Linked DNA regions of Homo sapiens. The main gene of each other region encodes a partner of the protein of the gene in region 3 in a complex. Each region holds a gene or a part of one and is shown on either strand. Other genes may lie near its edges. The genes, in order: SMARCC2, SMARCA4, ARID1B and PHF10.

Region 1 (3,659 bases), on a different chromosome or scaffold from region 3:
TTCCATATCAGGCTGTCTTCTCCTACCCTTCCAGCTCCTTAAATCTGGCCCCCGCCCTCCCAAGCTCCCAATAAGGCCTTTTGTGGGGAAGCCTGTGGAGTGTTTATTGGAGCTAAAGCCAGGCCATTATTAGCACTGCCTAAGCCTGTCCGTCACCTCAGCAGGGTGAAGGGCCAATTATAACAAAAGTAGGTAAGGGGCTTGCCTCCTCTCTAATAAGGGAAGGAGTGAAACCACTACTTCTGAAGGGACAGAGATACAAAATTCCATGTTGTGGGAATGTCCTTCCAAGTCTTAAACAGCTTTTAGGGCAGGTGAGAGCCTCTGCTCCTATACCAGCACATAGTCTCGACAGTTGTGCTGCCGTTCGTGTTTTGTGGGGAGGCGCAGTGTCTGTAGGCCGTGTGGCTTGCAGAGTGTCTTTCGGCCCAGGTAAACGCCGCTGTGAAGGACTCCAGGAAAGCTGCTCCCATCACAATCCCCCTGCCTGACAGCCACAGGTAAGAACACAGAATGCACCCACAAGATGGAACTGAAAGCAAATTAATTTATAAAAAAAAAAAAAAGAAAGAAAGAAAAAAAGAGAAAATTTACAGAAAACTTTGAACAGAAGAAAGGTGCTAAGACGCAGAGGGAGAGAAACATGGGGACATGAGGAACAAAGGGCCTGGTGGGAGGAACCAAGAAGAACCAGTGCAGAGCCTGGAGTCACACCTGCCTTCCCGTCACAGGGGAGAAGCTGGGACACGTGGAGCAGGAATGCGGGAAGCAGAGTTGAGCTGCGAGCCAAGGGTTGGTCCAACCCAAGGTTGGGCACCCTCTTCCACTGCTCCCAAATCCCTGCATCCTCATCTGGGGAGCCCCCAGCTATCAGCTGAAGTTCTCATAGTCTTGGTGGGAGAGGGAGGAAGCTAAGGGGTGACCCACCAAGTCATAATATGGAGGTGCTTAAGTGCTTTAAAAAACAATTTCAGGTTTTAAAACTTCACATCCTCTTATAGCTCCCTTCTCTGTGCCTTCCAGGAGTCCATGGATACAGCCCAGGGAAGGAAGGAGAACAGCCCCCAGTGCCCTTTCTTCTCCTATTACCTACCACAGAAATCCCCGAAATTAGGTTTTCCCCACCAAATACACATACGCTGACATCAACTAAGCAAGTGACTTTTAAAAACAAAACTGACATTCAGAGGGAAAGGAATCATTGGCTGAGCTGGGGTGGCCTAAAACAGCAACAATGAGGAAGCCGCAGGAGGGATTATTAGTACGAATGAACTCGAATAAGCTCAGCGTAGGGTGGGGGAGGGGAGTTGGGGCCTTGACTTAGTCACTAAAAAGGGGCTTGGGGAGAGATGGAATCTGCGCCCTGTTCTATCCCCAGAGCTCTCCCTGGAATCTTAATTCCCCTTTCCTAAAACTCACTCCCCCTCAAAAAATGTAAAAATTGGTTATTTTTTAGTGGGTAGAAGGGAGCTCCAATGTGGCTTTTTAAAATCTACTTTTTTTTTTTTTTTTTAATCCATAGAAAATGCAGTAGTTTGGAGGGAGGTGTACCCTTAGAAGTGGTTAATAGAACCTTGTATAAACACCTTTCACCAGCCCTTCCTTTAGGGCAGCATTCCCATCCTATCCTCTCTCCCAGACATTATAAACATCTTTTAAACAGAAGTCCTTGAATAATCTGATATAAAAATGCATGCCTCTGTTAGGCATGGTGAGGGCTTTGGAGGGGCGGAAGGAGCTTTCCTTACGTAGTGATGAACTCTCCAGGCTGGGGAGGGTCCCAGTGGTGGGGGAAGGGCTGTTCCTGGAACCGTGATGTCCACAGGGGGTGAGGGGGAGAGATGTCTGGCTGGCTCCTCACTGTGGAGGTGGCACAGGGGTGACCGTGCCTGGGCTCGGGGCTGTGGGGTCTGGAGGCAGGGGGGTGCCTGGGTCTGTGGAGAAAAGGAAGATAAATCAGTTAGAGTACGCCGGAGAGATGGCTCCAGACCCAGACCACCACAGACAGACAGAACCGGGCATGGCATGCAGTGGCTGGGTGGATGAATGAGGTACCCATAATGTTCAACTTCTGTTCCCAACACTCTTTTCTACCTCATACTCAGAAAAACATATAGAAAGACTCTCTATATGGGGCATTTGAACGTGATAGGAATAAGCAAAGGGATGCCACTCAATCATCATGCAAACAGCTGCTTTTCAAGTTTACAACTGAGATGCTCTCTGCCACAGGATTGCTCCATGACCCACCAGTGAAAGGCCCCAACATCATCCCAAAGGTGGCAGCTGCCAGGCTGGGGAATGGTGGAGGACGGCCAGAGAGGCCCTTCCTCCTGTATTCTAATTTTACCAGAGTGTTCAAAAAGGATTGTGGAAACTCTAATACCTGACCTCTTCCCCACCTGCCCGCTCACCCTCCCTCCAGGTGGACCCCTCTCCCTCACCCTTCTCCCCTCTTGGCCCCTTCTCACCTGGCAGTGGGCTGGCACTGGGCAGGAGGTTGCCCTGAACAGCTGCCACAATGGCAGGGCTTTGGGCTGCGGCGGATCCGAGCCCCGGCCCGAGAGGCAAGGAAGATGGCATGGTGGTGGTCGCCGGCAGGTTAGGATGTAGAGGGTTCGCCATGGACACAGGCAGGTTAGGTGGGGGGAGAGTGCCCGGGGCGAACGGGAGATGGTGGTGATGCCCATGCAGGTTAGGAGGAGCGGGGAGGTTAATACTGATGGAGTCAGCTAGACTACCAAATGGGATGATGGATGGAGCAGGAGGAGGAGGAGGAGGCGGCATGCCAAAAGGCAAACCCAAAGGAGCATTACCCGCCACGCCTGGGTGCCCGCTGCCTGGCACTGCCCCTGGCATCATTGAGGGAGGAGTTTGTTGGTTGGGGAACGGTGAGGGGCCTGAGAATAAAGATGAGAGATGGAGAAAATTAGGTATAAAATTTTGCTTAACAACTCACCTTTTCTATTTTTTTTTTAGACGGAGTCTCACTCTGTCACCAGGCTGGAGTGCAGTGGCACGATCTTGGCTCACTGCAACCTCCGCCTCCCGGGTTTAAGCAATCTCCTGCCTCAGCCTCCCGAGTAGCTGGTACTACATGTACGCACCACCACGCCCAGCTAATTTTTGTATTTTTACTAGAGACGGGGTTTCAACATGTTGGCCAGGATGGTCTCAATCTCCTGACCTCGTGATCCACCCATTTCGGCCTCCCAAAGAATAACTCACTTTTACAAACAAGGATAATCTAGCCATTCCTTGGCACTATCTTCCCCTTTTCTGACACTAGAGTAAGTGAATAAAATTCCAAAGCTCTCGAGTTTGGGGAAGGACTCCTGCTGATTTAGGGGCCTAAGAGAGATGGGCCCATCTGTAGAAATTGAGGCTAACCTCATCTCCACACTCATCTTGTATCCCCTTTGAGGAGAACTGGGACATTCACCTGGATTCCTCTAGCCAACAAAAGTTCTGGAACATAACACTTACCATGGGGTCCAGGGGGGGGAACCCCTGGTGGGACTGCCCCAGGCTGGGGGGCTCCAGCTGGTTGCTGCTGCTGTGGCCCTGCAGTTGACCCTGCCTGCCCAATCTGTTCAGAAGGGCCCAAACTTCCTGGAGGGGCCCCACTGCCAGCAGGAGCAGGGACTACAGAGGCTGGA
Region 2 (7,727 bases), on a different chromosome or scaffold from region 3:
CCTAAAGGGCTGGACACAAAATGATTTTAGGTGGCCCATGCAAAACCATTTATTACTTTCCTAACTATGCATGAATTAATTTTTATTCCTTTTTTTAGACAGGGTCTCGCTTCGTCACCCAGGCTGGAGTGCAGTGGCTCAATCATGGTCCACTGCAGCCTGTACCTCCTGCCCCAGCCTCTCAAGGAGCTTGGGACTACAGGGGCATTGCACTCCAGCCCGGATGACAGAGCGAGACTCCGTCTCAAAAAAAAAAAAAAAATCAAGTGTTCACTACGCATCAGGTGCAGCAGTGTGTTAGCGGCTTCCCATGTGACCTCATTCAACCCTCACAAGAAGCCTGTGAAGTTTCGGGCATCCTCGTCCTACCTGTTTCACAAGTGGGGGGCCCTACTGCTAAGCGCCTCGCTTGAGGTTAAGCTACGATTTAGAGAGCTGGGTGTGAATTCAGGAGGTCTGATTCCAGAATGAGTACTCCTTACCACCACCCCACGCTAACCACCACCCCACACTTTGTAGGGGAGATGAGGACAACTGAGGTTCAGGAAACAATGGCTTGGAAAGTGCAAAAACTGTTCAAACAACTAACCTGTATCCCTTACAATCCACCCCCAGTCCTGCACCAAGCTTTCTTTTTCTTTTTTTTTTTTTTTTTTTTTGAGACAGTCTTACTCTGGTGCACAGGCTGGAATGCAGGGGCACAAGAATGGCTCACTGCAGCCTCCACCTCTCTGGCTCAAGCAGTCCTCCTACCTCAGCCTCCTGAGTAGTTGGGACCACCGGTGCATGCCACCACACTCGGCTAATTTTTGTATTTTTTGTAGAGATGAGGTCTCACTATGTTGCCCAGGTTAGTCTCAAACTCCCGGGTTCAAGCAATTTTCCCGCCTCAGCCTCCCCAAGTGCTGGGATTTCAGGTATGAGCCACTGCACCTGGCCCTGCACCAAGCCTTTTACACAGATGGTCACGCGATCTTCCACAGGACCCCCTCATTCAATCCACATAAGTTCGCTAAAGACCTACTATGTGTCAGGCCCAGGGTACTGTGGGGCCAGCCAGGCAGACACAACCCCAGCTCTCACGGTGCTGGGGGTGACAGCTACACCGGAAAGGACCAAGTTGATGTATGAATGTAGCTGAGGGGAACAATGGCTAGTCCGAGGTGGCCAGGGAAAGTCAAAATACAATCCTGGCGCAGTGGCTCACACATGTAGTCCTAGCACTTTGGGAGGCCGAGGTGGGTGGATCACCTTAAGTCAGGAGTTTGAGACCAGCCTGGCCAACATGGTAAAACCCCATATCTACTAAAAATACAAAAATTAGCCAGGCGTGGTGGCGGGCGCCTGTAGTCCCAGCTACTCAGGAGGCTGAGGCAGGAGAATCGCTTGAACCCAGGAGGCGGAGGTTACAGTGAGCGGAGATTGGGACTCTGAACTCCAGCCTGGGCGACAGGCAAGACTCTGCCTCAAAAACAAAATACAATCCTACACACCCTCCCTGATTTTGAGGCCCCCTCTTCCAAGCAGCCCCCGTGATCTCTGGCTACCACCGATCCCCTGCCTGTCCGCTGTGTCCCTCTCACAGTGCAGGTTCAGAGCAATAAACGATAGGCCAAGAGAGTTTGTTCCCACATTTACCACCCGCTCCCCTCCAAGACTGCAGAGGCTCCAGGATCCAACCCCCGACCATCCAACACTTAGTAGGGCCTCAAGAAGTTATCTGCTGAACAATGAGGGAGATTGGACCAGACAATTACAATAGTGCTTCCCGCTTGCGAGGAACCATTTTACAGGCTTTCACCAATTCCATTTGGGAGATTACCCCCTTTCACAAAGGAGCTTTCACAAAGGAGGAAAACTAAGAGGTTCAGAGAGGTTAAGCCACTTCCCTAAAGTGACAGTGTGCTAAGTGACTGACAGCACCAGGAATCAAGCTTGAATGCAGCCTATCAATCCAAACTGAAAACTTGCTTCAAATTCCTGCGAAGCGGCTTTTCCGCTTATTCCCTTGCTACTTTCCCCAAGGAGTCACTGACCAAAAAAAAAAAAAAAAAAAATCAAGACTGGTATCTTCAAGATCGGGACAAAACACTCGCCCAAAAGGTCCACGTTGAAAATAAAAGCCTTAATCTGAAAAACCAATTGGGAAGGAGAAAAAAGGATGCAAAAGAAAAGCAATGCTTTTACACAGCAAAGGATTTCCTCCGTGCTCCCCTACTTGCCGCCGACCCCATCCCCAACCCCAATTCGGGCAAACATTTTGAAGTCACTAACTGCAAGGCATCGGGGGAGTCCTTTACCTTTCCTTGAAAATCTGGAATGACACGTTTTTAAGACAATTTGAGGTCGGCTAGCCCAAGGGGACCGCTAATGCCCGTGTCCGGCCGACGCCGGACATATCTGGAGGTTTGGCTGAGCCCCGATCGCAGCTTCGCCAAAAACGCAACATTCGGGTCGGACCCGTTACCACGCAGCCAGAAAAGCCCCAACGCCTGCCTATTGTTGCAGCCGCTGTAATTGGGAGGGCGACTGTAGGGGTGCCGGGCGAGGGGGGCGAGCTTTGTCCGGCGACCCCGGCGAGAGCGCGCGCGGAGAGGATCGCGCGGCCTCCACGCGGCCCGGGCCCCCCACCCACCCCGCCGCTCCGCGGGGGCCGCCGCTGCCACGGCCTCGCGACACTGTGGCCTTCCCCACGCGCGCGGCTGCCGGCTGGGCTTCTTGACCCTCGGGCGCCGCCGTACCCCGGCCCCGCACAGGGCGCGCCGGCAGCCCCCTCCCCCCTCGGCGCCCCGGCTCCATTCAAACCGCCCTCCCCGGCCCCGCGCCGCGCTGCCCCCGCGGCCCGCGTTCCTTACCAGGAGCCGCCGGCGCCGTCGACTTCCCGGCGCCTCCCCCGCCCCTCCGCGCGGGGCCGGGGGCAGAATGGGCGTCTCGCTTCTCTTCACGAAACAAAGAAGCCGCCGCCGCCGCCAAACGAGGGGAAGCCTCGCGCGCGCGCCCGCCCGCCTCGGCCACCGCCCCCCCTTCACACACACGCGCGCCACCCGCGCCCCCGCTGCGCGCGCGCTCGCCGGCTCCCCTCCCCCTCAGCACCGCGGCGGCCTCTCCAGCTTCCGCCGCCTGCCCGGCCTCGTGCGCGCGCCAGCCCGCCCTTCCGCTCCCGGCGCGCGTGCGCGCCCGTCCCTGGGCGGACGGGGGTGGGCGTGGCCCGGAGGAAGCACGCGCGTCCGATGCACCGCCCCACTCGGGCCGCGATGGCCCCGCGCCTGCGCACGCTTCGCCTTCTGCACGCCTCGCGTCTTGACGCCCCGGAGCATGCGCAGAGCGGACGCCACTGCGGCGGCGGTGGCGGCGGCCGCGGTGACGATGGGGCAACTGGAGAATGGGATCCCGGTGGCCGTGGGGTCCGTGGGGAAAGGAGGTCCCTGAGGCTCGGAAATAGGAACCCTGGACCGTAGGACGGGCCGCCTGGACCAAGACCGGGCAGTGGTTTCCCGCGGGCCAAGGGCGCGCCTGGGAACCGCTTTGATCCCTGACCTGGGGCGGCGAGGCCTATTTGGGGAGGCAAGGCGGGGCCCGACCGTGGCCGCCTTCTCTGCAAAACTTCCCAAGTGCCATTAATTAGCTTAGCAAATATTTATTGATCTGCTACTGTGTCCCAGCCGCCGTGGAGCCCTCGGTCTAGTGGGGAAGGAGGACAAGAAGCAAGATTAATAAGCAAAATAGTGCAGTATGAGAGGCCGGACTTGGTGGCTCACGCCTGTAATCCAGCACTTTGGGAGGCCGAGGCGGCCGGATCACCTGAGGTCGGGAGTTAGAAACGAGCCTGACCACCATGGTGAAACCCGTCTCTATTAAAAATACAAAAATTAGCCGGGCGCGGTAGCTCATGCCTGTAATCCCAGCACTTAGGGAGGCCTAGGCTGGTGGATCATGAGGTCAGGAGATGAGACTATCCTGGCTAACACGGTGAAACCCCGTCTTTACTAAAAATACAAAAAATTAGCCGGGCGTGGTGGCACACGCCTGTAGTCACAGCTACTCGGGAGGCTGAGGCAGGAGAATCGCTTGAGCCCAGGAGGTGGAGATTGTAGTGAGCCGAGATCGTACTATTGCACTCCAGCCTGGGCAACAAGAGTGAAATTCCGTCTCAAAAAAAATAAATAGTACAGTGTGAGGTGAACACTGGGAGGATCATGGACATTTTAAATAGGGCAGCCACGGAAGTCGTCGTTGCAAAGAACACGTTTGAATGCATACAGGCTGGTGGTGAAAGAGAGAAACCTTCCTCCGAGAGTGAAGGCCCTGAGCCTCTTGGCCTCTTCTGTGTGTTTTCTTTTTTGTGTGTTTGTTTGTTTGTTTGTTTGTTTGTTTGTTTGTTTTGAGACGGAGTCTTACTCCATTGCCCAGGCTGGAGTGAGGTGGCACGATCTCAGCTCACTGCAACTTCTGCCTCCCAGATTCAAGCGATTCTCCTGCCTCAGCCTCCCGAGTAACTGGGACTACAGGCGTCCGCCACCACGCCCGGCTAATTTTTGTATTTTTAGTTGAGACAGAGTTTCACCATGTTGGCCAGGCTGGTTTTTAACTCCTGACCTCAAGTGATCCGCCCACCTCAGCCTCCCAAAGTGTTGGGATTACAGGCGTGAGCCACCTCACCTGGGTGGGTTTTTGTTTAATTGTTTGTTTTATTAGAGACAGGGTCTTGCTCTGTAACCCAGGCTGGAGTGCAATGGTGTAACCACAGCTCAGTGCAGCCTCAAACTCCTGGACTCAAGGGATCCACCTCAGCCTCCCAAATAGCTGTGACTACAGGTACATGCCACCACCACCAGCTTTTTTTTTTTTTTTTTTTTTTTGTCTGTTATGTTCTGTAGAGCTGAGGTCTGCTGTGTTACCCAAGCTGGTCTCAAACTACTGGGCTCAAGCAGTCCTCCTGGCTCAGCCTCCCAGTGCACTGGGATTACAGGCATGAGCCACCAAGCCAGGCCCCAGAAGGACCTGGGTTTAAAACACGACTCCATTTCTACTACCTGGGTGATGCATGGGTAATACCAGGCAGGTTTACCAGAGCATCTACACCTCACTTTCTTCACCTGTGAAACAAACAATAAGGCTGGGTGCGGTGGCTGACATCTGTAATCCCAGCACTTTCGGAAGCCAAGGTGGGCAGATGACCTGAGGTAAGGAGTTCGAGACCAGCCTGGCCAACATGGTGAAACCCCGTTTCTACTAAAAATACAAAAAAATTAATTAGCCAGGCATAGTGGCAGGTGCCTGTAATCACAGCTACTCGGCAGGCTGAGGCAGGAGAATTTCTTGAACCCAGGAGGTGGAGGTTACAGTGAGCCAAGATCATGTCATTGCGCTCCAGCCTGGGTGACGAGAGTAAAACTCCATCTCAAAAAAAAAAAAAAAAAAAAAAAATGCTGGGCCCAGTGGCTCACGTCTGTAATCCCAACACTTTGGGAGGCCAAGGCAGGTGGATCATGAGGTCAAGAGATTGAGACCATCCTGGCCAATGTGGTGAAACACCATCTCTACTAAAAATACAAAAATTAGCTGGCTGTGGTGGCGCGTGCCTGTAGTGCCAGCTACTCAGGAGGCTGAGGCAGAATTGCATGAACCCAGGAGGCGGAGGTTGCAGTGAGTCGAGCGTGCCACTATACTCCAGCCTGGTGACAGAGGGAGATTCCGTCTCAAAAACAAAACAAGACAAAACAAAAAAAACCCACCAGAAACAATAATGGCTCCCACTTCCACTGTTTGGTTATGAGGAATCATGACAGCAGGTAGCCCACCTGCTAGCTCTCTGATCCTCAGCTAGTGTTATTGAATAGTGCACAGTAAGTGAGCAAGTAGAAGTGGGATCTGAACTCGATTCCTCATTCATTCAAGTAGTTATTTTTTTGTTTTTTTGTTTTTGTTTTTGAGACACAGGCTTGCTGGGTCATCCAGCCTGGACTGCGGTGGCACGATCAGTACTCACTGTAGCCTCGACCTCCTGGGCTCAAGCGATCCTCCTGCCTCAGCCTCCCGAGTAGCTTGGACTACAAGGGTGGGACACCACACTCAGCTAATTTTCTTAAAATTTTTTGTAGAGACAGTCACACTATGTCGTCCAGGCTGGTTTCAAACTCCTGGGCTCAGGTGATCCTCCCACCTCAGCCTCCCAAAGTGCTGGGATTACAGGCGTGAGCCAAGGCGCCCGGCCAAATAGTATTTCTTATGCTCTCTCCAAATGCTAAGCATTGAGCTAGGAATACCCTGCAGCAATGCATGGAGGAGGCAGGGTTGCTGCCCATGGAGTGGATGGTATGACTGTTCTCTAATTGTCTTTTATGCTAATCACACTAATATGCAATAGTGTAAAGAAAAACAGGCCGGGCCAGGCGCGGTGCCTCACGCCTGTAATCCCAGCACTTGGGAGGCCGAGGCAGGCGGATCACCTGAGGTCAGGAGTTCAGGACTAGCCTGACCGACGTGGAGAAACCCTGTCTCTACTAAAAAAATACAAAATTAGCCGGGTGTGGTGGTGCATGCCTGTAATCCCAGCTACTTGGGAGGCTGAGGCAAGAGAATCGCTTGAACCCAGCGGGCAGAGGTTGCGGTGAGCTGAGATCATGCCGTTGCACTCCAGCCTGGGCAACAAGAGCGAAACTCCGTCTCAAAAAAGAAAAACAGGCCGGTTGTGGTAGCTCATGCATGCCTATAATGGCAGTACTTTGGGAGGCCCAGGCTGGCAGATCACTTGAGGACAGGCGTTCAAGACCAGCTTGGGTAACATTGTGAAACCCCATCTCTACAAAGCAATACAAAATTTGCCAGGTGTCTCAATTAAGAGCACAGTTCTTAATAATGAACTGCCCCTGGGACCTTGGCCCCATGTCTGCATTGACACCCTTGGCTTCCAGACTTTAAAAAAAAAACATCTACAGGCTGGGCGCAGTGGCTCACGCCTGTAATTCCAGCACTTTAGGAGGCCGAGGCAGGCAAATCACAAGGTCAGGAGCTCGAGACCAGGTCAATATGGTGAAACCCTGTCTCAACCAGGCACGGTGGCTCACGCCTGTAATCCCAGCACTTTCTCTGGGATCGCAAGGTCAATATGGAGTTCGAGACCTGGTCAATATGGTGAAACCCCGTCTCAGCTGGGCGCAGTGGCTCACACCTGTAATCCCAGCACTTTGGGAGGCCGAGGCGGGCAGATCACGAGGTCAGGAGATCGAGACCATCCTGGCTAACACAGTGAAACCCCGTCTCTACTAAAAATACAAAAAAATTAGCCAGGCGTAGTGGCAGGCGCCTGTAGTCCCAGCTACTCAGGAGGCTGAGGCAGGAGAATGGCGTGAACCCGGGAGGCACAGCTTGCAGTGAGCTGAGATCCCGCCACTGCACTCCAGCCTGGGCGACAGAGCGAGAGTCTGTCTCTAAAAAAAAAAAAAAAAGAGAGACCCCGTCTCTATTAAAATACAAAAATTAGCCAGGTGTGGTGTCAAGCACCTGTAGTCCCAGCTACTCGGGAGGCTGAGGTAGGAGAATCGCTTGAACCCAGGAGGCGAAGGTTGCAGTGAGCCAAGATCACACCACTGCACTCTAGCCTGGGCGACAGAGACTCCATCTCAAAAAAAAAAAAAAAAGAAGGGGAGGAGAGGGCAGGGCAGGGGAGGGGAGGGGAGAGGAGGGAACGGGAAGTGGGGGAGGGGAATCATCCCAGAGGAGAATGG
Region 3 (7,034 bases):
TGAGGCGACAGGACCGAGTTGGGTCCCACAGTTGGAAAGGGATCTTGTGCCTCTGCAGACGGGCACACCATCCAGTGCAGCAAGCCATCCAAAATTGGCAAGCAGATGCTTTCCGTGTAAGCAGACAAGTCTAGCTGCCCGGAAATGTTGGCCAACGTGACCAACGTGTTATCCCTCAAGACCTCGAGGCAGTCCCACCACCACTCATCTTTGCTGCAGGCCACCCCCTTGTCCTCATCCTCCTCTTTCTCATAGGTCTGCGGTGCTCGCTTTCTCTCTGGATGCTCGTGGTGAAGAAGAATCAGCTTCCCCAGGATCAGCACCAGGCCTGGATGTTTGGACATTTCGGCATCATTGCCAGGCACGAATGACAAGCTACGGACAATATTGGACACACAGATGCATCGCTTAGCCAGCGAGTCCTGCCAGTGCGCGATGGTACACAGAGGAGTCTCGTCTCGGCTCCTGGGCTCGTCCTCCAGCAGCTTGATGTTCCGGTGACTTTTGGCTTGCTGGATACCAAAGGGAAACTTACTGCTTTCGGTCTGGGGCCCAGGGTTTGCGTCTTCAGGCAATGCCCCTGGCCGAGCAGAGAGGACGTCATCGATGGTTGCTATGATGCTTTTCTCTTGCTGCTCTTCAGAGTCGCCTTTGCCTTCTTGCTCTTTCTTTCTACCTGCGGAGCTTAAGGGGGGAGGTGGGCGCCTGCGAGGAGGAATTTCCATCTTGCTCTCAAAGTGAGTCTGAATGTGCTCGGTGGTGTCACCCCCGCCGAGCTGCCAGTGCAGAAGGCCACTATTGAACTCCTGCACACGCCCCAACTTGTCAGATCGGTCAACAACAAACAGGTTGTTCTTTTTGACTATCTTTATTGGCAGCTTGTCGAACTTACTGGCTTGCTTGGGCTTCTCCTTTGGGTCTGCAGCGGCGTCCGGGGCAGTCAGAGCGATGCTGCTCTTTTCATCGCTTTCTGTCTTCTCGCTGTCTTCCTCCTCATCCTCCTCGTCTTCCTCGTCGTCATCAATACATTCAGCATCTTCCTCCTCTTTCCCAGAATCGTCTGCCAAGGACTGGCTGTCATCCTTCCTTGCTGCGTTGTGATCAAGTGCTTTTTGGCTGGGGTCTCCCACTTCATATTCCATAAGAATTCCAAAAATGTCAATCAGGCATTTTCTAAAGTACTCGACTAAAAGTTCGAGAAATCCAGACAACTGGAGAGGAGGAGGAGGAGAAGAAAGAAAGAACAGGTACAATGTCATGACATCAGATATGACCGAGGAGGGTAAAGATCCTGAGACCCGTCAATACCTTTCCATCATTGTCACACGTTTGTCTCCCTTTTTGGCTGGACCATGAAAGATAAACTACCCTTCAGGTCCAGCGAACTTCCTGAATTTTACAGTATAAACTAAACCGATGTTTAGCATGTTCCTTATTTGCTGCTTCCTTGCTTAGACTATCTACACGAAAACTTACTTTTTATTCTCATATCTCTAATCTTATCACTGAGGGAGTGCCTTGCTGTTCTTTACCTTTCTGTTCCTGATTTAGAGACAATGTACTCATTATTAGAAGAGTGGGAACATGGATTTTATAGACTCTTTTGCCCAAAGTGACTCTGTTCTCTTCTATTATTTATCTGAGACTTGCTTGCCGGGATTTTTATGGTTGTTATTCTTAGGATTTTATGGTTATTTTTGTCTCAGGTACCATAGGTCACCCTAATTTATGTTCTCTATATATCTTTTGGAGAAGATAATTTCAGCAATGTGGTAGCTCATGAACACTGAAAATTAAAAACAAATCAATTTAGCCTATGATAAATAAATTAAAATGTTTCATAAAATGCAATTTTACATTTCAGTTATTTATGACTCTAGCTGAAAGGCAAAAACCACTATGAGAGAACCACTGACTACAAGAACAAGTTTGGTTTCCTTTAAGCAACTGTACCAAGAAAAAACCAATACACTTCACGATTAGCAACTGCCCTCTCTCCCAACACCCCCCACCATGTTTAGGAACTCTAAAGAGTAAGTAACAAGGATTCTAACAAGGATTCTTTCCCGGTAGATGTTCTGGAAATCAGCTATACCTTCATATCCTACTGTCAGTTTCTTGAAAGTAGAGTTGGAACAATTTTTAAGAAGTCAGGGGAAGCCCCCAGCACCAACTAGAAAGAACTGCTTTTAGTGTGCTGAAGGCACAATGTTCCAAGGGCATTTTCCCTTTTTTTTCCAGGGGAAAAGGGAAAGTTAATAAAGCAATTCTGGTTATGCAAATATGTGATCAACAACAGTTCACCTAACATAAGGATGAAAGCGCATTACTCTAGCAAATGCAGTATACAGTTTTTAAATACTTATTTTCTGTTAACACAGAACTCGTACAATGTTTATGACCTTATTAATAAACTTTCTAGCAATTGAAAAATTGCCTTTCTAGGCTGATAATGAGGGCTTAAATGAGAGAAGAAAGAAGTAGAAGATTCTGGTCTTATTTCCTTAGAAGCAAGGAAATTAAGTGTTTTAGTTTTTGCACTCAAAGTAGAGAGTTGTTTGTATACTATAGGGAAAATGACCTTTTTCCATTTTTTATTTCTAAATATTTCTTTAAAAGTCTATAGCCCAGTGGACTCGGGCATTTTCCCCAAACTTCAGTGCTCCTCTCTTCTAGCTATTATGCTGGAAGCTACCTGAAGCCTACCTCTGAACAAAGGAGGGGTTTAAGCTCATTAAAAGTAGTAGGCTTTTACATGACTGCTTCAAAATAACCTGGAGAGAGGCAGAAATGAGAGAGCATAGACTAAGAAGTAAGTTTAGCCATGAGTTCATAACTATTTTAGCTGACTGACAGGTACATGGGGGTTCATTAAACTGCTCTCTCTCCTTCTATATATATTTATACATTCTATAAATGTATAGAATATAAAATTTCTAAATCTTGAATATCTTTTTAATGAAAAGAAGATGTCAAGTCCTCCTGGAAAGCAGGGTTATGTCCCATTGCAACCAACTGTGTTTCCAATGCTGACTCCAGTCACAACTTAATGTTACATTTTGATTTCTTCCCATTGGCCAGCTAATATTCATTCTGAACAATTTAATGTTACTACTGTCATCTATCCCATATACACATACACACACAGTCACTGTTCTCTCATAAGAAATAGAGGTATGTGTGTGTACACACACTAAAGACTACAGTGAATATTATCCCAGATAACTCTACATTGATTAAGGCTGGTTGATAACAACTGCAGTGATTAACAGTGTTGGACGGTCAGTGCTCATCAACTCAGGCATTAGTTCAAGCACAAATGTGCATGGCCTGATGCTCTCCTATCCTAATTTGGTTGTTAGTTGGACTATGCTGGCTTACCTGGGAGAGATTGAAAGTAGCAACAGTGCTGTCATCATACAGAAGAATATTAATAGTGTCCAAAGCCCACGTACTCTCAGCCAAAAGACCTGATTTAAGGGACATCATCACACGCCACGCCTCAGGAGTAACTGAAGATGGGGAAGAACAAGGATATCATGAATGTTGACTCTATGCATGAAAGAACGAAAGTTAACGAAAGAGTAAGAAAAAATAAGTGGAGTGTTAAGTTAAATATTGACTTTAAACAAATGCTCTCAAGGACAGTTAAGCGTGATCATTTCCGATTTTAAATGGAGGCCATAGCTGTAACGAGAAACTTTTGTGGTTTCAGATCTCGCTTTGTTGGTCACGCAGGGGCCGAAAGTGCTTCTGGAGGTGGAGTGGTTGAGCACAGATGGTCCTTTCTCATGGCCGGGTTATTTCTTTCAGCCACCCTACAGAGTCTGCAATGTGGTATCAGAGCTTTTAATAAATGAGTCAAACCCAAAAGTGGTATTTGTCTTCTTTTGGCTTCACCACTCACGAGTGTCTCAAGGTGGCGTCCTGGAAGGCCGCCAAGTATGCAGAACATGGAAGCAAAATTTAACTCCAAGACAGCCTCCTCAGACACACGGCCTTGGCTTCCCAGGCTGCTTTCCTCTAGTCCTGTGCTCCTGCCCTCAGAACATGCTGTGATAAATATTAGCACTTTGATGGCTCAGATTTCTCAGGAGTATGGCTGGAGCCACAGAATGGGAAGTAATTTGTTGTTTTCCCTATTCCTGCTACTGAAGGAAACAAAATGATCAGGTAGAAAGTTTGGAAGATTTGCCATGAGACCCAGCTCGGCCAGATCCCTGGAGCTGCCTGGAGGCTGGGGGCATTCTCCAGGCACCAAGAATCATTGCATGAGGGGGAGACACCGTGGCTTTTCCACTTTTATTTTATCTGTTTTAAAATTTTCTAAGATAGCTACATACTGTTTTTACAATAAAAAAATCAAAATTACTTTTAAAAATAAACATGTAAATTTCCCTAGGTTGAAGACAAATGCTATATAACCCGCACTGGGAGATTTTTAGAAAATTTAGATGTATTTATTTAAACATACATATACACACATAAACACACAATACACGTGTGTGTGTGTGTATATATTTCTATATATAAAATGGTGCTCAGTGTCTGTGTCTCCTTCTCTCCCTCTGCAACCCCATATAAATACACACACACACATATTCTATATATATCTATATATCTATATTTATATCTATCTATATATATATATAAAGGGATATAGATACACATGCATTATATATAAATGGATAGATATATATAAAGGAATATGTGTGTGTGTGTGTGTGTATACAGTGGCACAGTCACTGCTGAAGCCTTGATCTCCTGGGCTCAAGTGATCCTCCTACCTCAGCCTCCTGAATAGCTGGGACTACAGAAATGAATCTCACTTTTGGCTAATTTTTTTTCTTTTTAGTAGAGACGAGGTTTTGCTAGGTTGTCCAAGGGTGGTCTCGAATTCCTGAGTTCAAGTGATTCTCCTGCCCTGGTCTCTCAATCTACATCTCCTTAATGTCCAGTGATTGATGTCTTTCAAATTATTAATATCTTTAATTTTCTAATCACTGAAAAAGATTTTAAGTCAATTTGTTCTTGATATTTTTTGAGTAATTTTTCCTAATATAACTCAGATCTATTATCTTCCTTCCTGTGTTAAAAGTACTTCAAAAATAATGCAGAAACCCTGTGTGTACTTCCAGATAGTCCAGACCTCTGATTAGTATTCAGAACATCCCACAGAGGATAAACAAGCAACATCAGCATTCGATTGACATGGTTCTTGGCCCAAGTCTACCAGTGCATTGGATGATATCAGTTCTATGTATCACAGCATAGCATATTCTTTATGTCATACCATCTATCAATCTACATATTACATACAAGCTTTAACTTTTTCCCACGGAAATTCACTGTATGTTGTCACCAAATTACAGAGTGGCTTGCCTTCAGATTTTCTCAGGTCACCTTTAGCATTTCATTAGCCTCATGGGGGGGTCTGTTAGGCACGTATTGTAGTGATTAAGTGGCTTGGTTAAGTTCAAATCTTTAAGCCCAAAATACAGCATATAACCACTCAGGATTCCCTGATCTCTTACTTGAAGCTCTAATCTTTCACACAAATAACATTCACACGTAAAACTACCATTTTATTTCACCGTGTTATCCAGGATGGTCTCGATCTCGTGACCTCGTGATCCACCCGCCTGGGCCTCCCAAAGTGCTGGTATTACAGGCATGAGCCACCGCGCCCGGCCAATCTTTCTGGCACTATTTCTTAATTCAGATTAGCAGCCTCCAACTATATTACTCCTATATAAAAACGCATCTTGATAACTTCTAGTCATAATTTTTTCATCCCTTTAAGATGAGCAGGAACAGCATCTTTACTAAAATTAAAATTCTACACTGCAACTGGAATTCATTTCAGAATGAAAGCTTTGGAATTCTTACCGATATCTTTGGAGGTAATCTTTCGCCTTTGTTTCAAGACTGGTTGTGATGCTTCTACTGAGCCAGGAGGAAAGGTGATCTCCCTTCTGATTGGGGGTGGTTGGGGTGGTGGCCCGGTGACCTGGGATGTGGGGACCGTGGGCATGACCTTCTGCATCTTCATAGACGGCAGAAAAGGAGACTTGCTTGGAGACATGCGGTTCTCCAGGGAGCGCTGGAAGGACGCTGGGCTGGGCGCCCTGGAGATGTGATTTGGCAGTGACGGTGGCGTCTGGTAGGACGGCTGTGGTGGGCGTGTGATGGGCTGCATGGAGGCTGAGGACGACATATAAGGCTGACGCTGGCTGACGTGAGAAGGCCACTGGCTCTCATGATTTATCCTCTGATCGGGTACCATCATATCGTCTGTGCGGTTCATGCCTGGGTAAGGGGGCGCCTGTGTAGGGCCGCCAGGGCCCTGCCTGTTCTGGTAGGGATAAGGCATATCATTGCGTGCTGCCCACATATTCTGCTGAGGCCCCTCACTGGAGGACGACTGCAGCGGGCCGCCCATCATCTGAGGCGGGATTCCGTGTGTCTGGATCTGCCCCGGGCCCTGCATCCTCTCCCTGCTGTAGGGATACGGGTACTGGCCCTGGATGGGCCTGCGGTCCGGGCCCGAGTAGGAGCCTCCATACTGGTTGTACATCTCCTGCTGCTGGCTGCTGTACTGCATGTTGTACATGTCGCCCTCGTGGCGCTTGGCTGGGGGCCCGTACATGCCGTCCATATGGCGTTTGTAATTCTGGAATTCACAGAAAGACAAATCATCCTGATGTGCTCTTACAGGTATAATCACACACTGAAATTATGCAAAATAGTTATTACCTGCTAGAATGTTCATTTCAAAATGAATATGGGAAGCTCCTATAACAACAGAGAACTAACAATTTATGTTCAATATTTCAGTATTATATACACCATGTCACACACTGAGGAGAGAGCATCCAAAGTTTGTTTTCACGTGTTTGAAACTTCCTGTGGAAAAAAAAAAGCCTCCTCTCCTTAGGCTGTGCCACCGGGACAGCCAGCGTTCAACTCCCACACAGGCAGACGGCTCCCGGGCTGGGAGCTGCACTAGGACCACAGCAGGAGGCAGAAGGACC
Region 4 (7,034 bases), about 13 Mb from region 3:
ACTTATTTAATACTAATAGTTTAAGTTAGATACTGGCATAGTAAATACTCTAATATCTTTCACTAAAGTCAGGGAAGTAACCAAACAATATTAAATTCTAAAAACAGAACTCCTCACAGGAGATTCTTTACAAAACAAAAGCCAAAAGGAGTAAAACACAAGGGTAGTCATTCACATTCTAGAGCAATTCAAGTTCTACAATCATTAAAATATACATTAAACACCTATGATAAAAGGGACACCAAAAAATTCTAGGTTTATTTCTAAGTTTAAATCATAATGATTTGTTAAATCACTTAGTTTTTCTTACCCAACAGCCTTCATCTTGATGAAAAGAGGGAAACATGAGAGAAGGGGAAGAGAGACAGCTTTGTAGCATTTTCTACGATGAATGCTGCAGCTCGATATACAAAGCATCTGCCCTCTCTAAGAAGCCACAGTGCTGGCATCCAGGACTTTACACAGCAGATAACAACTGTGGCTTAGAGAAGCCAGTCTCAAGTGGATTGCACAGTTGAGGGAGGGGTTAATGTGCAGCACTCTCCACAAGACCAATGGAGCACACTCCTATGTGTGTCTGGTTTAGACAATCAGTTCTACTTCAAATAACTGCAACATCATCAGAGTATCACTATTGACAAGAAAACTGAAATACTCATCCTAATAGCTCTCAGCATCTCAAATAAAAGGCTCACAGTACACTTACTTTTCTACTTGAAAAACAGCCAAAGATAAGACTTTCATGGTAGCAATAATATAGTATAGATTTTAATTATTGTATTTATAGGCCGGAATCCTAATAATTATGCTTTAAATTTCAGGTTAATGTAACCTAAACAATACTGTTCTATGAATTAAGGGCAAGCACTAGTGAATCTTATTAAGCAAAGCATCAGATACATTACTTCCTTGAATCTCGTACTTTTTATATATAAACTATGACCTTTAGCTTGAAGTACCCTAATATTTAGGCACATCTTGGTTTATTAATACTTTTTATAAAGAGGTTAACTTTTAATAAGCATGTTCACATTAATGTATGATGACTAGATACTGGTTGTTCCCATCTTTGAAATACCTGAAACATTTTTAGGTACTAAAAATGTTCACAGATTATGTAAAATATAAATTTTGCATATCCTACTTGAGTACTATTAAGTTCAGTTAATCCATATGATTTCTTGTATACTAAATCAATGATAGTGTTGAATAGCTGATTTCCAGCCTGTATTAAAACATCTATTTCAATATTCTCTCTTTTTAACCCATGATCAATCAAGCTTACTGTTGCAAAGATCTACTTAGCACTCAAGAGTTAACAGGACACTGTGCTTTGAGCGGCCACTTCCATTTAAAGCTCTTAGCAGACCAGTAGAACACACTCATTCATGTATACTGCTTCTGAAATTTCATCTTTGGAGCTCACTTGCTTTCAGTTATTAAGCATTAATTTATATAAAGAAATTACATAAGCTATATATGTAAAAACAAGTACAAAAATCACATAGCTGCAGCCTATTGCAGCCACCCTTGGAAGCCAACCCTTGCTGAATTAAGCTTAAAATTTGCTTGCTATAGGCTACAAAAAAAAAAAAGAATTTTTAAGTTAATTACATAAAAGCATTTCCTAATAAAATATGAAATACACTAACTTAATGTCGCTTTTTTTACTTGAAGAAAGGTAAATGAACATGTTAGAACGTGTTCTAGTTAGTTTGAGGGAAAGGTGACTTACTTCAGCCTGTTCTTGTGAATTATTTACCACAATCACAGTTCTGACATACAAGGTGTTTAACAATTTCACTTGGCAAAACTTTCTCATCAGCTTACTCTAAAATTTTCCTTCAATACACCTTCATAAGTGCAATAAAAGCATGTTCTAATACATTTCAGACCAAAAGAATCAAAAGGTAGTCTATTTTACTACCACCATCCCAAATATGAAACTGTACAGCTAATTCTTCCTTTTATGATATTCTTAAATCCCTATATGCAAATAAGGCTACTCATCTCTCACCTCACCTTTTCTTCAGAAGAAAAGGGAGGGGCAGACAGAGGGAGGAAAAGTTCAAAATATAATAATAGTTGCTGACAACCTACTCCTTTACTCTGAGGATAATCAGATCAACAAGTTAACAAGTATGTTTTAATTCTTGCCATAGAATCATATAGGCTCTTTACCAAGGTTATGCTAAAAATCACTACAATGTAAGTAACAGGTTTTATTATTTTCTATCCCAGAGTTAGCTAAATTTAGCATATGGATCAAATAATCCTTAGATTAAACCCAGATCTTTCTTAATGAAAGGCACTAAAAAAAATGCAACTTAGTCTAACAGTATATCCACTCATACTTTATAGCTCAGCAGCTTTAGCTACACTAAATGCTGGGGCATTTAAAATGCCAAATAATTATGATCTTTACTCCAAGGAAAGAAAATATAAACTTCTGCCTATGAAATAATGTTTTAAAAACCCATACTTGCCTGGTTATTCTTTCAAAGAAAAAAAAAGACTTATAAATTGTACATATACAGAAAACAGAAGGTAAACCATAGCCAAAAGTGACAGAAAAGCCACCAAGGAAATAAAGCAAAAAAGAAAGCAGCGGACAAAGGGCACACCATAGAAGAACAGCTAGTGAGGTACAGCAGGCAGAAGCTCCACAATCGTGAAAGTCAAGTTAAAATATTTCAGGGAGAGGCTGGTCAGTAAAGAAGCTGAGTCAGGGGCTTTTTTCTTCTACCTTGTACCCAGGAACTGACTTGGACAGTACAGAACGTTTGGGACCATCTTTTCTTGGAGTGGCAGCTTTGTCTTTTGATTTCTGTCTTCCCTGGAAAGAGTCCTCCTGGCTGTCAGGAGGGCTTTCCCCTTCAGATACATTGCCAGAGGAGCTGTCCTGGAGTTTAAAAGGCAAAAACAAAGATTCTTTGGAATTAAGACAAATTTGAGTCTGGATTTTGAAAACTATGGAAAATATTCAAAGAAAGTTTTAAAGCTTTATCATTTTAAAAATAAAAAGATCATTCTAAATGTAAGAAAGCTTTTTCCAGTGGAGACTAAAGTAAGTTATGTTAAAAATCATTCCTCCTTCTTCTAAGTATATTATATAAAACTGATTCCATATCAGTGCCTTCATCAACTTTGTTTTCTGACATAAGTCACAAAAACACAATTATCCGCTTCAGCTACTATTACGGCACACAGCTTCAACATCATTTTCCGTCACAAGGGAACATATTTGTTTCATACAAAAATATATTGTTACAAATAAGTGTGGGTATTTTCACTGAGTACTAAAAGTCATTAAGAAGGTCCTTCAGGAAAAATGAAGCGCTGCAGTTAGGAAAAAAAAAAAAAAGTCCTTCAAGTACACATTTGTGTTTTCACAATGTTAAACTATGCAGAGCCAATCCCTCAACTATCTACAACAGGATCTGAAATATTTTATATATTCAAGGTTTAAGACCTCAGTATCTGATCATTTAATTCTTCATTTTATAATTTAAAATGTTCTAATTAGAACTTTCATATAAATTACAAAAATTATAAATTAAAAAATTAGGTTATCTAGAGCCTCCCTGATAAACACACACTGACTAGAAACATGAATGTATCTACTTTATCTTTTTTCTGGGTGTCCACTTATATACATAAAGATACCGAGACTCACACATTACCCCCTACCTCATTGTGCCCTCATTTTTTAAAATACAAAACTGGATTACACTGTGTGTGTATGCATATGTGTATTTTGGTATTTTTTAAAAGCATTATGTGCATTTTCTCACAATCATTAAATATTCTTTGAACTGCATTTCTATCCTATAAATGTAATATAATATTACCCACTGTGGGCATTAAAATTTATTTGTAACTTCCAGCATAAAAAATACTGTCAACACTCAAATGGACCTTTTTTTCTAATTAAAATTTTTCAGCATCTGATTAAATCCTTAGGATAAATTCTACTAGTGGATTTGCTAGGTCAAATACTATGGAACTTAAATTGGTAAGACTGTCAAAATGCTTTCCCATAATGTTGGATTAGTTTACACTTTTCCTAGCAGTATGAAAGGAAGTCAGCTTCATCACCCTTTGCATGCCATAGCTCCCCTTTTAGCAACATGACAGGAGAAAAGTTGTGTCACCACTTTAATACTTGAACAGTATCTTATTTTGCATAATATGTATTATTAAAGATGTTTTAGAAGCTGTTGGTGACAAGGAAATAATGTCCATTCAATGGTAGCACAATCTCACATTTACATTGGCTTCAATGAAAAGTTTGAAATAGCCAGTTACTTAAAACACAATGCTAAAGAAATTCAAAGCCCTATGTCATCACTGGGATCAAAGCCCCAAACCATCATTGGGATTTTATTCTCCTTCAGGTGCACAGAATACACCAACTGCCCACTGTCTTGCAGGTGCATTTTGCTACAAAAAAAAAAGTCATACAGGAAAACCCAACAAATTGTACAACATATTACTAAACATAATATTTTCCTATAGGAAGCATAAGATTAAGCAAATGCACTCCCCTCAACTAAGAAAACTACATTTCTGTGTCAAGAGATCAAATTCTGTTTTGTTCAATATTTTAAGCTAAAGAGACAGCAAGTTGAATAAATGATTGTAAGCTAATTTTCCATACCCTTGCCTAAACTGCTCATGGTAACTACAAAGGGGCGATTTTAAGCATAAAGCTTACCAAAGGCCATTCACTGCTTGTTTTTATCAAAACATACTATAAGTAACTTTTATTGATGAATACTTTCTGGAAATTACATGCAACCATCCTTTTTCAAGGAGAGGGTGATGACAGAAATTCAATGTAACAAAAATTCAAAGAGAAAGGAAATGCTTCCTACTAGAGAGAAATGTTCTCACCGAAGTGCCTTTATTTTTCCGTTTCTCATCACCTCGACCATCTTCGCCATCATCTGAATCACCATCACTGTCTAGAGCAGGGAGCTCAGGATCCAGAGGGGGCTCATACAGGGCTGTGTTTAATGGCAGATACCGCAGCTCATCTGGTGAGTACCTGAAGTTCAGAGAGTTTATTTTTGGTTTCCCTTTATTATTAAATATAAACAGACTCATCTTTGACCTATGAAGATAGCCTTAAACTTCTTGAGTAACCCCGAAGACTTTTGAAAACTAGAGTACTAATTTTTCATTTTTGTCATCAAGTAGGGTTAATAAAAAGCCTGAACATCTTTTCACTAGACTTATGTAAAATATGCATTTGATTCTTACTAAGAGATAATGTGCCTCCCCTCTTTGCCCTCAACCCAAAAAAAGAAAAAAGTAAATAAAATGTCAGCAGCCCCAAGTCTGGCTGCCAGCTCACATCCACCTCGACCACTGTCCCAGGTCTTTGCTACTTCTCTGTGCTGTCACTCCATTTGTAAAACAGACCTAATAATAGCATCTACCGCATACAGTTGATATATATGCATTAACTTATTTAATGCATACATATCACACCAGTGCATGGTACATGATATTACTTAAAATAATAACATAGAAAGCAAAATTTTTAGTAACCAATTATTGTAAACAAATTTGGGAAGCATGTATTCTAACAAATTTAATCATCTATTTTGTCTGAAACTATATTGGCAATCTCTTCCCCTAGGTCAGACAGCACTGCTTCGTGCCACCTCCATTCTCACCCTCAGTAGCCCCCATTCAGGAGGCAACCCTAGATGAAGACTTCTCCAACTAAGACAACACACCAAAAAGCAAAGGGGTTAATATACTTGCATATGACTTTTAATAATTTGCTGATGCCAAAATAAAATTTTTAAAAATTAAAGGCCGGGTGCAGTGGCTCACGCCTATAATCCCAGCATTTCGGGAGGCCAAGGTGGGCAGATCACCTGAGGTCAGGAGTTCGAGACCAGCCTGGCCAACATGGTGAAACCCCGTCTCTACTAAATATACAGAAAATTAGCTGGGCAAGGTGGCGGGCACCTGTAATCCCAGCTACTCGGGAAGCTGAAGCAGGAGAATCACTTGAACCAGGAGGCAGAGGTTGCAGTGAGCCGAGATCGCGCCACTGCACTCCAGCCTGGGCGACAGCGTGAGACTCCATCTCAAAAAAAAAAAAAAAAAATTTGAAGAAAAACTTTTAAAAAATTGCTGCTCATGATTTAAATTTGAATTTAAAAAATCTTTTTTTATTTAAAAAATTTCTGCCCAAGATTTGACTTTCAAATGGTGTGAGTTATGATACTATATTTTAAATTCTATTCTCTAAAAAATAGTATATTATGAAAAACATACGGTTCCAGAGTAAGGCTTAAGGTTGAAGTAAAAGCTGAGACTTTAAAACAAAATGGGCTGGGCACAGTGGCTCACACCTTTAATCCGAGTACTTTGGGAGGCCAAGGTGGGCGGATCACTAGGTCAAGAGATCAAGAGCATCCTGGCCAACATGGTAAAACCCACCTCTACCAAAAATACAAATAATTAGCTGGGCGTGGTGGCATGTGCCTGCAGTCCCGCTATTTGGGAGGCTGAGGCAGGAGAATCACTTGAACACAGGAGGCAGAGGTTGCAGTGAGCCGAAATCACACTACCACACTCCATCCTGGGTACAGAGCAAGACTGTCTCAAAAAAAAAAAAAAGAATCTGTTAGCCCTGTTTTTTTCAGTTACATTTAATTTGGGAATAGGAGATAAGTAACATTTAGGGTCCATATTGGAGCAGCAGCCAGGCCAGGTCAGCAATGTGGCTGGGGCACCCAGTTGCCCATGCCTGCCCCTCTCCGCTCCTTCTCTCATCTTCTCTGCAGTAAAAGTCAGTGTTTCTCAAACTCTAACCTGCACATGAATCACACAGACATCTGTTAAAATGCAGACTCTGAGTCATAGGTCTAGAGTTGGGCCTGAGATTCTGCATTTCCAACAAGCTTCTGAGCAATAACAGTGCTTTGGACCACGGAACATACCCTGAGCAGTGAGGTGCTACAGAACCCCCAGCATCTGTCTCTAACAAACCCAAACAGAATGGGCAGAGA

What was found.
Region 1: ARID1B (region 3) and SMARCC2 share a complex: the UniProt entries of both Homo sapiens proteins name them as parts of the neuron-specific chromatin remodeling complex.
Region 2: ARID1B (region 3) and SMARCA4 share a complex: the UniProt entries of both Homo sapiens proteins name them as parts of the neuron-specific chromatin remodeling complex.
Region 4: ARID1B (region 3) and PHF10 share a complex: the UniProt entries of both Homo sapiens proteins name them as parts of the neural progenitors-specific chromatin remodeling complex.

Annotation. Positions count from the first base shown.
Region 1 is NC_000012.12:56,161,832-56,165,490, forward strand, and holds the end of SMARCC2 (SWI/SNF complex subunit SMARCC2), read right to left. Parts: coding exon 3,487-3,659; intron 2,901-3,486; coding exon 2,472-2,900; intron 1,935-2,471; coding exon 1,858-1,934; 3' UTR 528-1,857; downstream 1-527. UniProt on the Homo sapiens protein: Involved in transcriptional activation and repression of select genes by chromatin remodeling (alteration of DNA-nucleosome topology).
Region 2 is NC_000019.10:10,956,303-10,964,029, reverse strand, and holds the start of SMARCA4 (SWI/SNF-related matrix-associated actin-dependent regulator of chromatin subfamily A member 4), read right to left. Parts: upstream 3,001-7,727; 5' UTR 2,856-3,000; intron 2,721-2,855; exon of another isoform or gene 2,301-2,720; intron 1-2,300. UniProt on the Homo sapiens protein: ATPase involved in transcriptional activation and repression of select genes by chromatin remodeling (alteration of DNA-nucleosome topology).
Region 3 is NC_000006.12:157,200,344-157,207,377, reverse strand, and holds part of ARID1B (AT-rich interactive domain-containing protein 1B), read right to left. Parts: intron 6,674-7,034; coding exon 5,890-6,673; intron 3,513-5,889; coding exon 3,382-3,512; intron 1,212-3,381; coding exon 1-1,211. UniProt on the Homo sapiens protein: Involved in transcriptional activation and repression of select genes by chromatin remodeling (alteration of DNA-nucleosome topology).
Region 4 is NC_000006.12:169,707,490-169,714,523, forward strand, and holds part of PHF10 (PHD finger protein 10), read right to left. Parts: intron 5,051-7,034; coding exon 4,897-5,050; intron 2,903-4,896; coding exon 2,747-2,902; intron 1-2,746. UniProt on the Homo sapiens protein: Involved in transcription activity regulation by chromatin remodeling. Belongs to the neural progenitors-specific chromatin remodeling complex (npBAF complex) and is required for the proliferation of neural progenitors.